2 separate regions of the Homo sapiens genome follow, and region 2 is reported to be linked to region 1. Evidence: microRNA targets listed by miRTarBase, many of them from high-throughput screens and not tested one by one. Region 1 holds a microRNA gene; the other region holds the end of a gene's coding sequence.

Region 1 (5,366 bases):
TACCTTAGGAAACAGGATTATATGGTGATTCATTCAATAAAGTCTCAATTCTCAAAAGAAAAAACAAATAAAGGAAAACACTTGCCAGCTGTTCCACCATCTGCGCACATACCCTCTGCGAGGGGCTGACAGACACCCACACTGTGTTCCTGAACTTCACACCACGTACAGCAAGTCCTTCAAGGAGGCACTCAGTGCTTTAGGAGGTCCACTGTGGGGTATCTGCCACACACAGAGTGAACACATCACCAATAGCCTCCCTCCAACCATTCCTGGCCGGCTTCTGGGGTGCTGTCTCTCTTCCAGAGCCCAGGGTGTCCTCCTGCAAAGGAAACAGACGGCAAGGGTTAACACACAAGGATACGTACCATCAGAGATGCAAGGCTTCCTTGAGGCCCTCCTCTGACGTACCTGAGGTGATGGAGGCAACAGTGACCCTCTCCTGACATAAGCAGCAGTGAGAGCAGAATCCCCCCTCGATGGGAGACAAGGATCTGGTCGAAAGAGAACTGTCCATGTCGCGTCATCCAACAACTGTGCTTCCCCTTCCACAGGGGACTCAGAGCCAGTGTCCCCTCCAGAGGTCCTCAGGCTGAGGGTCCACCGGCCAAGTGGCACGTGTCATATACAGACTGTGGGGCCTGCCTTCTGCTCCCACAGCTGCACCTTCCCTGAAGTGGGCACCCCATCATTTAGAAAGGTGGCACTCAAATGAGTAAAACAGGTTGACTATGCAGGCCACAGCTTGGACAGCCTTTCTTGATGGAATGTCCTGACATGAAGACCGGTGCTGCTTCTCCAAAGTGTTTCTGCCACCGGGAAGTTCTCTGGAGGGAGGCCAGAGCCCAAAGGATGGGTGGAGCAGCTGCCCACTGTCTGAAGGGCACCTGCTGAGGCCAGCATGGTCCCAGTGTCACCAATGGACTGCCGTTAGCATCTCCTTCCAGAAGTGGGTTCTGACCTTTCCCGATGGCACATGATTCTCAAATAGAAGTGCACCATATTTTTCATCATAAATAAAGGGAAAAAACACAGATAACCTCTCCTCCAGTACCAAAGTGTAGCCCGGAGAGCAGTCCCACAGCCTCTAGTTCTGGCTGGCAGAGCTCCAGGAAGCCCTCCTGGGGGACAGGGATGCTGAGGTTCGGGGGACAGGGATGCTGAGGTTCAGAGGACCAGGTGGCCGTGGGGATGACGCGTATGCTCTCTGGGCAACACCCATCACTCACCCCAGAGAGCTGCTGATGCCACCAAAGCTCCCAGCTCAAACAGCCTTTCCCTTCAAGTGGGATTTGATACTGAAAAAAGAGTGGCCAAAAATGATTCGTCACAAATAAAATGAACACACTGGGGAAACCTCTTCTCTTCCAGGGCCCAAGGATGGACTGAATGTGGGGACTGGACACCCGGACAGCAGTGTCTTCGGGAAGGCATGTGTTCTGCCGTCAGCCATTGTTCACTGCTCCCGATTTGGGGCAGACACCAATGTCAGACACCATCTCTCTGATGCTGGTGATCAAGGAGCACATCTCTCAGAGGCAGAACTGGCACCTAGAAAGAGTGGGGCGGGGGCTGGGCGCACTGGCTCATGCCTGTAATCCCAGCACTTTGGGAGGCCAAGGTGGGTGTGGATCATGAGGTCAGGAGTTCAAGACCAGCCTGGCCAACATGGTGAAACCCCGTCTCTGCTAAAAATACAAAAAATTAGCTGGGCCTGGTGGCGGGCGCCTGTAATCCCAGCTACTTGGAAGGCTGAGGCAAGAGAATCGCTTGAACCTGGGAGGCAGAGGTTACAGTGAGCCAAGATCGTGCCATTGCACTCCAGCCCAGGAGACAGTGCGAGACTCTGTGTCAAAAAAAAAAGAAAGAAAAAAAGAAAAGAAAAGTAAAGAAAGAGCGGGGCAGGGAGGATTAGGCTCCAGTAAATCACCACTCTGAGAAATCCCATCTCCCAGAACCACAGGGACGCCTTCTGCCACAATTGCTACCCCCAATCAATTCTTCTGTGGAGGTGCGGGTGGCAGTCCCCCAGATGGCATGTCCTCATGTCCCCTTCAGCCATCCCCTCAAGCCTCTGGAGAGAGCGGATGGGGGCAGGGGTCTTCATTGCTTATTTGTTTTTGTTGTTGTGGCAGCTGCTTCCTTTTTTATTTTTTTCTTGGCTGCTATGATCTGAACTCTTCTCAAATGTTGGGGAACGCTTCTCAATGGAGCCTGGAAGTGCATCTCCCCAGCCTCCCTGGCAGCGGGGAACTGGCATGTGGTTGAGGCCTCGCCAACTGTGCCTGTCCGAGAGGTGGGCGTGGACTGAGGACTGAGGACTGAGCATGGTCCCTGAGCCCACCAACACACAAAGTCACCGAGGGGCTGCCAGGACAAATCCTCCATGTACATACCAAGAGAGGTAGTGACACCAGGTCCCATGCTCAGGGTCCCGTCGGGGATGGAGGCACTTCAAGGAGATATTTGATACCGAAAAAGAAGTGCACCATGTTTGTTTCGTCACATATAAAGCGAAAATAACATGGGCAACTTCTTTTCAGGTACCAGAGATGAGCACGTCCTCCCTGCCAGAGGCACACCTGGGCGTGAAGGGACACTGAGGGTCAGGGCGTGAGGGCAGGGCCGGGCAGACGCTGCCAATCAAACTTATGCTCAATTAAGCCTAAAAGCATCAGGTAAGTTGGCTCACCCCAGGGGAGGTGGGGGACATGCTTCGAAGGGCTGGGCTGACACTGAGCAGAGGCGGACAGTCATCACGGATAAAGCAAACCGATCCCAGACTCCCTCTACTTCGGGATCCCAGGAAGTCTTCATGGGCAGAATTCAATAATCAGGGCAGACGGCTTTCGGAATGTTTACTATCAACCCTGCAAATGCTCATGGAGAGCATCACTTCAGAGAAAATGGGATGGTCCTGGACCCAAAAATAGAATCTCCTCCATGAGCCCATGGTTCCAGGAAGGAGATGGGAAGACAAAGATATCGAATCAGGAGAAACAAACCACCAAGGCAGCCCCGGCTCTCGGTGGACCCATCTCTCTGTGCACCTTGCATGGTGCTGACCACTGCACCTCCTCTCTAAAGTGCTCCGGGTTCCCTGGAGGCATGGCTTGGTTCTAAAACACTGACAGTTAAGTGTGAGTTGTGACAAATACAGCCAACCCACAGAGAGCCAAAGGACAGCAGGGGCCAGGAAAGGACAACGGCTTCCCCAAGTCCACATCACTTGCAGGGCAGCCTCCCAGAGAGAGGTGGATTCGAGGGAGAGTGAATCGGGGCAGAAGTTCTGGGGCCCACCATCCATCAGGCCTTCCAGAGAGGACCCAGTGACCCATTGCTGGACACAAAACACGGTAATTGTGCATCATTTGTCAACCATAAATTAAATCACTAAGACAAAGCTTTGAAAGCATAAGTCCATAAGAAAAGTCACCTTCCACCAAAACCCTGCCTTAAATAGGACACTGAAGATAGATAGGCAAACCGTGAGAAACACATCATTGAAAAAAATGCAGGCTTTCCCAGTCACACTGGAAAACACACTGTGGTATCATCTGTTTGTATTGCAAGTAAGATAAGATCTAACTCCAACTGGCTTAAACAAGTAAGGGATTTATAGACGTATATAACTAAAAAGTACAGAGACAGAGCAAGCTTCAGGCAGGGTTTGATCTAGGGACTCAAATGATATCATCCAGGCTCTTCTCTAGGTCTCCAAGATGCCTTTCATGGTACAGACTCCCTCTGCTGTGTCTGCGTGGCACCAAGCCCTCTCCTCTCAGTCCTTAAACGGCTGTGGGACCTTCGAAGCTCACGTCAAAGTTCACTGTCTATTCCCAGCTGAATGGAATAGACAGTGTCTACTCTGGCAGCTATCACAGGAAAGGGAGAAACAGTTTCTTTCCCAGAAGCTGCAGCAAGCATCTCCTTGCCTATCACTGGCCCAGTGGGGTCATGGGCCTATTCCGGAAGCAATTGCAGTGGCAAAGGAGAAGAGATCAAGAGATTCGCTTAAGCCTGGGCTGGTGGAGGAAGTGGGGCAGGGTCAATGCAATCAAAGCACACGGCGGGAAGACGGGAGCTTTCATAAAAAAAAAAAAAAAAAAAAAAAACAAGGAGAAATTTAGGAAGGAGAAAAGACATGGGGTAGGGAGGTCCTGATCAGCGTCCACTACAGGGGCCCATGTGCCTTCCCTGAAGTTGCACCCAAACCAAGACGTCTTCAAGGCAGAATAGGATACTGAAAAAGAAGTGCACCGCGAATGTTTCGTCACAAATAAAGCGAAAAAAACACGGGCAACTTCTCATTAAGTACCGCACGTCAGCACCGTTGACAACACTGCTTCTCCGCGGCTGGTATCACTCCTGCGGGCTTCCTGAGAGCACATGGGTCCTGATGCGCACCGGGCAACCGGTGACAAAGATATGGCCGTGCATACAACCCCCTCAAGACCTGGGAGACATCTAACAGGTCTGCCCCCTCTGCACAGGTGGCATTGTGTCCTGGAGCTGCTTGTGAGCACGATGTGTTCAATTTCTCAATAACAAAAAGTCTCCTCCAGTAGCACAGAATATGACAATGGCACAGAAACAGTGATTTTGCATCCTAAAAGTCCTCCTGAGGATACATGAGGAGGGACCAGGAGAGTCACAATAACTCCCCAGATAAGATGGATGAGATCTACCACCCACCCTTTAGGGACAAACAGCAAAGTGTCTGCCCTGATGGAGCCTCTGAGCCAAGGGAGTCGTCATAGAATGGGTAGCGCAAGGGATTTTTTAACATTTGCCTCAAACAGATGGAATGACCAGGGGTCCTGGCACAGCGTCACCACTGTCGATCAGCCTGAGCCGGAGAAGAGCCCCCGGGGCAGACCGGAAGCTGCGGGTTAGGGAGGGATGAATGAGCAATGAATAAAACCCAAGTTCTCAGGTGGTCCACGTGGACAACTGACTTGGTGGTGGCAAATCCTCACCGGTTCCTGCATTCACACCTCACCACAACCCCCTCCCGGGTGGAGTGGGCCTCCCCGCCCCTTGCCTTGGGTTCGGCCGTGTAATTGTTCTGGTCAATGATCTGTGGGTAGAAATATAGCAGTTCCCAGCCTTGGCCTTAAGGAGTTTCTGCGTTTCTAATTACTTTCTTGTGCCTCTGCCGTAGCCATGGGAGCATACCAAGGCCGGGGTGAGAGCTGTGGGTCCCAACTTCAGCCCTCAGGGCAGGCCTTCTCTCCACAAGCCATCCTAGGTATGGGAGGGAGACTGAGGATGAACGGACCAAGACACACACCCGAAATAGAATGTCTGCTCTCAGACAAGATGTCCACTCCCATACCTCTCCATGGACCTGACGCCAACAGCCC
Region 2 (5,366 bases), not on the chromosome of region 1:
TGGCTCTTGCTCCAAGGCTGGGGTTCTGACCTTATGGGCTCCTAGCCCCAGATGTCCCTTATCACATGACTCCCAGAAGCCTCAGAGCTCTGGCGTCCCCACTCTGGGGAGCTTGGCAGCCTTCCTTCAGAGCCAGCCCGTCCTGGGTCCCATCCTGGAGCAGCCACGGTCAAATCCAAGCACACTGGGCAAAGCTGCTGGTGGCAGGAGGAAGGGGCCCTGCCCAGCGGACCCAACCCCCCCCCCCCCCGCCCACATACACAGGTGCCCACAGGTGCCCTGAGAGCTGGGAGCCACAGAGAGCCCCCGCATCCTCTGCTGGGCCTGGTGGCTCCCTCACCACCTGTGCTCCAAGCCTGTGCTCTGCTGGTCAAAAGGGGGCCTCCCCCAACTTCGGAGGTCCTAACATCTCCCTGTGGGGTGAGTGTGTTATTACAGGGTTATGTGCCTTCCCAAGCCTGCTTCTTAGCAGGAGCTTGGGGTGGGGAGGGTCCTTGAAACACGTGGGCCCTGTGCGGGCCTCCAGGAAGGGCGCCAGAGGACCCCCAGGCCGGGGAGCACGGGAACCCGCCTCCATGCTGCTTCTGGAAGGACGGGGAGTGATGGCCACTGGGGGCTCAGGAAGAGCTCGGCCCGGAACCCATCATTGCTCCAACCCGGCCACTCGACGCCTCCATCATCCCTGCTCCTGGCCAGGCACCCTCACCTCTCCTGAGGGCCAGTGGGGCCTCTGCACAGCGATCCCGGTCCCCGCGGGCCCCTGGCAGTACTTGTCCAGACAGCAAAGTGAGGCTTTCACTACGTCGATCGGATCAGCACTCCCAGCTCCAGACCCTCGGGTCCATCGCTGCTTTGCACACCGACGCCCTGAGCGACGCCCTGAGCCCGCCAGAAGCCGCCCACCCAGCGAGCGTGGCCCCGCCCACTCGCTCCGAGAGGCTCCTCCTACTCCATGCCCCGAGATCTCGTTCCCGGCGCCTCGCCCACCCATTTTTTTGTTTTTTTTTGAGATGGCGTCTCGCTCTGTCGCCCAGGCTGGAGTGCAGCGGCGTGATCTCAGCTCACTGCAAGCTCCGCCTCCCGGGTTCACGCCATTCTCCTGCCTCAGCCTCCCGAGTAGCTGGGACTACAGGCGCCCGCCACCACGCCCAGCTAATTTTTTGTATTTTTAGTAGAGATGGGGTTTCACTGTGTTAGCCAGGATGGTCTCGATCTCCTGACCTCGTGATCCGCCCACCTCGGCCTCCCAAAGTGCTGGGATTAAAGGCGTGAGCCACCGCGCCCGGCCTCGGCCACCCATTTTGCAAGGCCTTCGTCCACTCATTCCAGAAGCCCTGCCCACCCCAACCCTGGAAAGCCTTCCCCGGCGCCCCGCCCACCCCATCCCTGGAGAGCCTGTCCCCGGCGCCCCGCCCAGTCACTCCGAGGCCCCGCCCACCCCTGAAGACCCGCCCACAACCCCGAGAGGCCCCGCCCGCAACCACAAGAGGCCCCGCCCAGCCGACCCCTCGGAGCTGACCTGGTCGGCCCCACCCTCAGTGTCCCCCTGTTCCCCCAATGCCCCTGCCTGGAGCCGTGGACTCCCTACCAGCGCCCAGCCAGGAGCCAAAGCAGCTCAGGAAGAGAGGCTTGCTTTTTAAAATTTATTTTAAAACATGAAACCCAAGCTGAATAGAAACCACAGAAATTACATTGACGAGATTTTTAGTATTTGCCAAGAAAAAAAGCCCCCAAAGAAATAAAAATCAGCCCCCAAACCCAGTTCTAAAAAAACAAAAAAACACAGCGACAGTACATACAGCCATGGCCCTACAGAGGCTGGAGGAGGGGGAAATGCAAAATGGTTCAGGCCTCAGTTCCTGGATGTTAAATCACACTGGGGTGGGGGAGGTCAGATGCCCAGGCCGGGGGGGTAAACCAGGAGGCTGAGTCTTAAGGAGATTATATATATATATATTATATATAACAAATATGAAGTGGTTCAGTACACAACCATTATGGTTAAACACAAAACAAAGATCCCACAGGAGAGGCCCTGGTCCCCCGCCTGCCCCCTTGTCTGGGGTTCTGGGGTCCAGGGGGCTGCCTCACCACCCCTCTCAGGGCTGGGGCAGAGCTGGCCCCAGGGCAGGAGCAAATGTTGCTTGGAACTCGAATTGCATAGTGAGATGGGTGGGTGGGCAATGGGCCAGGGGCTGCTCCCAACCAGGCCCATTCACTACCAACCTTGCCATGACATGTGGGGGGCCCTGGGGTAGTGGATGCCTGCTGGGGAGCACTCTCAGTGAGGTAAGCCCCTGGGCTCCTCCCTCTTGTCCCCAGGGCCACCCTGTCCTCCCAACGAGGCTGTGGGCCTGGGGGCTGCAAGACCCCCTGTGCAGGGTGAGAGTGGGGGCTGGCCATGGCAGCAGGCACCAGCCAGATGCCCCAGTAGGTGTGGCGAGGTCATGGGATGGAGTAGTTAGGAACACGGCACCGAAAACTCAGAACAAAAATACAACCAATGGCAGGCGCTCCCCTCCACCTACTGAGGTGGGGTTTGAACCCCTTTTGATTTTCCCCGTTTCCTTTCTTCAACCTTGGTGAGTAGAAAGTCACAGACGGGCACACACGCACACCACGGTCAGGAGTCCCGAGACAGCACGAGGCTGGAAGCCCTGGCCTCACCGCCTCTCACGCTATGTCCATTCACCTGGCAGGCAGCCTCACGGCCATGGACAGCATTTGTGCTTCTGAGCGGTCGCAGGGCGTTTGGCGGGCACCCACGCCAGGGTGCCAGGGCCTCTCTCCTGGCCCTAGGCCTGGAGAACTCCCCTGGCGGGTCAAGCCCAGAGGAAAGACTGGGCAGGTTGGCTGTGGCGGGGCCTCCGAGGGGGGCTCAGAATGTCAGCCAGGCGGGGCCTGAAGCAGAGGCCCCTCCACTGAGGTTTGGTCATGCCTGGGGAGCTCAGACGCCCCGGCTTGGGGCCCCAGGCCCATGGACTCCCCTCCCCACTCTGCCCTCCCATATTCCCCCTTTTTGGTCCCAGACACCAGCACAAAGAAAGGAGGGGTTCACAGAGGAAGGCCAGGGCAGAGCCTGGCCCCAGGGAGGGGATGAGGACATTTCCGGTCCAGGTAGCTGCCGGCTGCTCTGGGAGGAAGAGCCATGCGTCTGTAAACTGCTGGGGCTGGCGGCCCGCCCCACTGCAGGGCCCAGCCTTGACCCCTGCACGTGGCCATCCAGCTGCCCTCTGGCTGCCCCTGGCCTTGGCACAGGCATCGAGCCTCGAGGGCTGGGCTGGCTGGGCCAGGGCCGGGACCGGGAGGGGTAGCACGTCCGATCCTGATGTGGGGTGGCTCTGCCCTCCACGGCGGGAAGCACAGCAAACATCGTACACTAAAGCCAAAAGCACCATTGGGGAGCCTCGCTCCCACTTCATGGGGAGGAGACCGAGGCCACAGGGACCTCAGTCCAAAGCCCGCGGGAGGTTCATTCCCGAGGACAGTCCTCCTGGGGCAGCACCTGCCTGGGGAGGGGTGTCCAGGCCCTTGGGCTGCCTGTCGGTCTGTGGCACCCCCTGGAGCACCCCATGAAGAAACGCTACTGCAGCCTTGACTCCCAGACAGCTGCTCCGGCCTCGGCTCCAGCCCGGACTTGGGCTCACACTGCCGGCTCTGGGCCAGCTAGGGGCACCCGTGGAGTTTGGGGGTGAGGTTAGTGGTTAGTCCCAAGGGGGGACAGCAGGGGCTGAGGGATGTTCACAGCCGGCTCGGGTCCAGCCCCTCAGGCCGGGCTCCTGGGATGCTGTACCTGTCATGGATGGAAATGGAACCAAGAAGGGAGGGAAGGGGGGTGCCAGCGGTCCCCCTCAGCCCGCAGCCCCAGCCTGCCCTAGAGATGACAAATGTGGTTAGTGCAAAGAACGAACCAGACACAGCTGCCCAGTCTCTGGGTGGGGGAAGGGGGTTTGGCACCAAGAAGGCGGCCAGCACTGGGTGGCGGGTGAGCGGCCCGGGCTCCACGTGGCCCCTGCTGTCCACGGAGGGCTGGGGCCTCCAGCAGGGCAGGTGCTGAGGGAGAGAGTGAAGCTGGGGCAACGGAGAGAGGCCCTGCTGGAGGGGGCCTCTGGCAGCCGGCAGGAGGGGTGAGCCTGTGGGTGGGCGGGCTGCACAGGCGAGGAGGGCACTGCAGAGAGATGGGCACGTGGAGGGACCACGGGGTGACCTCAGGGCAGAGATGAGCAGGTGGCACGTGTCCCTGTCCCTCAGTGGCCAGCAGGCGCCAGCACAGAGCGGCCCCAGCCGTGCCTGTGAACTAAGAAGGGGTCCACAGAAGTGCCGGGCGGGAGGAAGGAGAGCTGTGGAGGGAAGGGCCGGGCGGCAACAACACAGGTTGGGTGCGGCCAGGGCTTGTAGGTGCGGCGACCATCTGCAGAGGGAGCGTGCCGGGATAGTGGGTGGCGTGCAGGGCTGGGGCATCGGCTGGCAGCAGCGTTCAGGTGTGACCCGAGTTGGCGGTACGGGCCCAGAGCCCCTGCGTCTCCACTGTGCCCCTGCGGGGAGGGGACAGGAGGGCAAGCGGCCTGCAGACGCGTCTGGGGCAGGCCTGGCACGGCGTGCGAGGGTCCGGTGGGTGGCCCAGGTGGAAGCGGCAGTGCTGGCACGGGGAGGGGAAGTTGGCACGTGGGGTGGGTGGCTGCCGGGCGCGGTCTAGTGGCTGCCGCTGGAGTCAGGGCGAGGCTGGCTCGTGGCGAGGTATTTGGCTCTCATGCTGGAGGTGTACTGGAGGGAGACAAGGGGGAGGCATCAGCAGGGCCCCTGCATGGCGCACGCAGCCAGGGGCGCCTTCCGCGTGGTCCTCACTTGGCTGAGCCAACAGCCCTGGGGGCAGAATGGGACAGTACAGGGTGCCCTGACAGAGCCTATAGGGAGGGGCTAAGGAGGGGCCGCTGGCTGGGGGCCCCTGCGCTCTAGGTCTGGCTGAGGCTGAGGGAGGGGCAGCCCCCGAACTCTCCAGGCTCAGGACAGGGGATGTCTCCTCTGAGGAGGGGCGTACACACAGCCTCCCATGCCCACACCAGCGGCATTTGGGCATTGGGCCAGGCAGAGTTCTGCCACCCCCAGGAGCCACAGCTCCAAGGCCCTACCTGCACCTTACGCACCCAGGACCTGAAGGACACAAACCAGCCACCCTCCAGGGCCGGGCCAAGGCCTCCTCCGGGCTCAGGGCCGGGTCCACCTACAGCCAGGCCACAGCATGCAGGAGTACGGAGGCCCCAGCCTGAGGACATCCCCCGGGCTACTCTGCCCCTTCACGCCATGGAAGGAGGGCCCCTTAAGCCACACAGGAGGCTGGAGCAATGCAGCCCCCCCTCCCGTGGGGG

What was found. Region 1 holds the annotated microRNA hsa-miR-495-3p (AAACAAACAUGGUGCACUUCUU, at 2,479-2,500, opposite strand). A microRNA usually pairs through its seed, bases 2 to 8, with sites in the 3' UTR of a target mRNA and lowers its output. Matches are read on the target gene's strand: a 7mer-m8 pairs with bases 2 to 8, a 7mer-A1 pairs with bases 2 to 7 and ends in A, and an 8mer does both.
Region 2: the mRNA of TTYH3 is a reported target of hsa-miR-495-3p. Seed matches in the 3' UTR shown: 7mer-A1 at 1,964-1,970.

The regions. Positions count from the first base shown.
Region 1 is chr14:101,030,938-101,036,303 of GRCh38, reverse strand. It overlaps MIR495 (microRNA 495), which reads right to left and starts at 2,549; the gene lies at 2,468-2,549. LOC124903407 (mucin-2-like) reads right to left here. Exons shown (of 5, transcript XM_047432049.1): 5 at 1,822-5,366. It overlaps MIR543 (microRNA 543), which reads right to left and starts at 4,317; the gene lies at 4,240-4,317.
Region 2 is chr7:2,661,066-2,666,431 of GRCh38, reverse strand. TTYH3 (tweety family member 3) reads right to left here. Exons shown (of 14, transcript NM_025250.3): 14 at 1,630-4,764. The coding sequence ends at 4,693. Among named protein-coding and RNA genes, the nearest start is that of AMZ1, 24 kb to the left of the region's middle. RefSeq lists enhancers at 1,263-1,557, 5,221-5,320.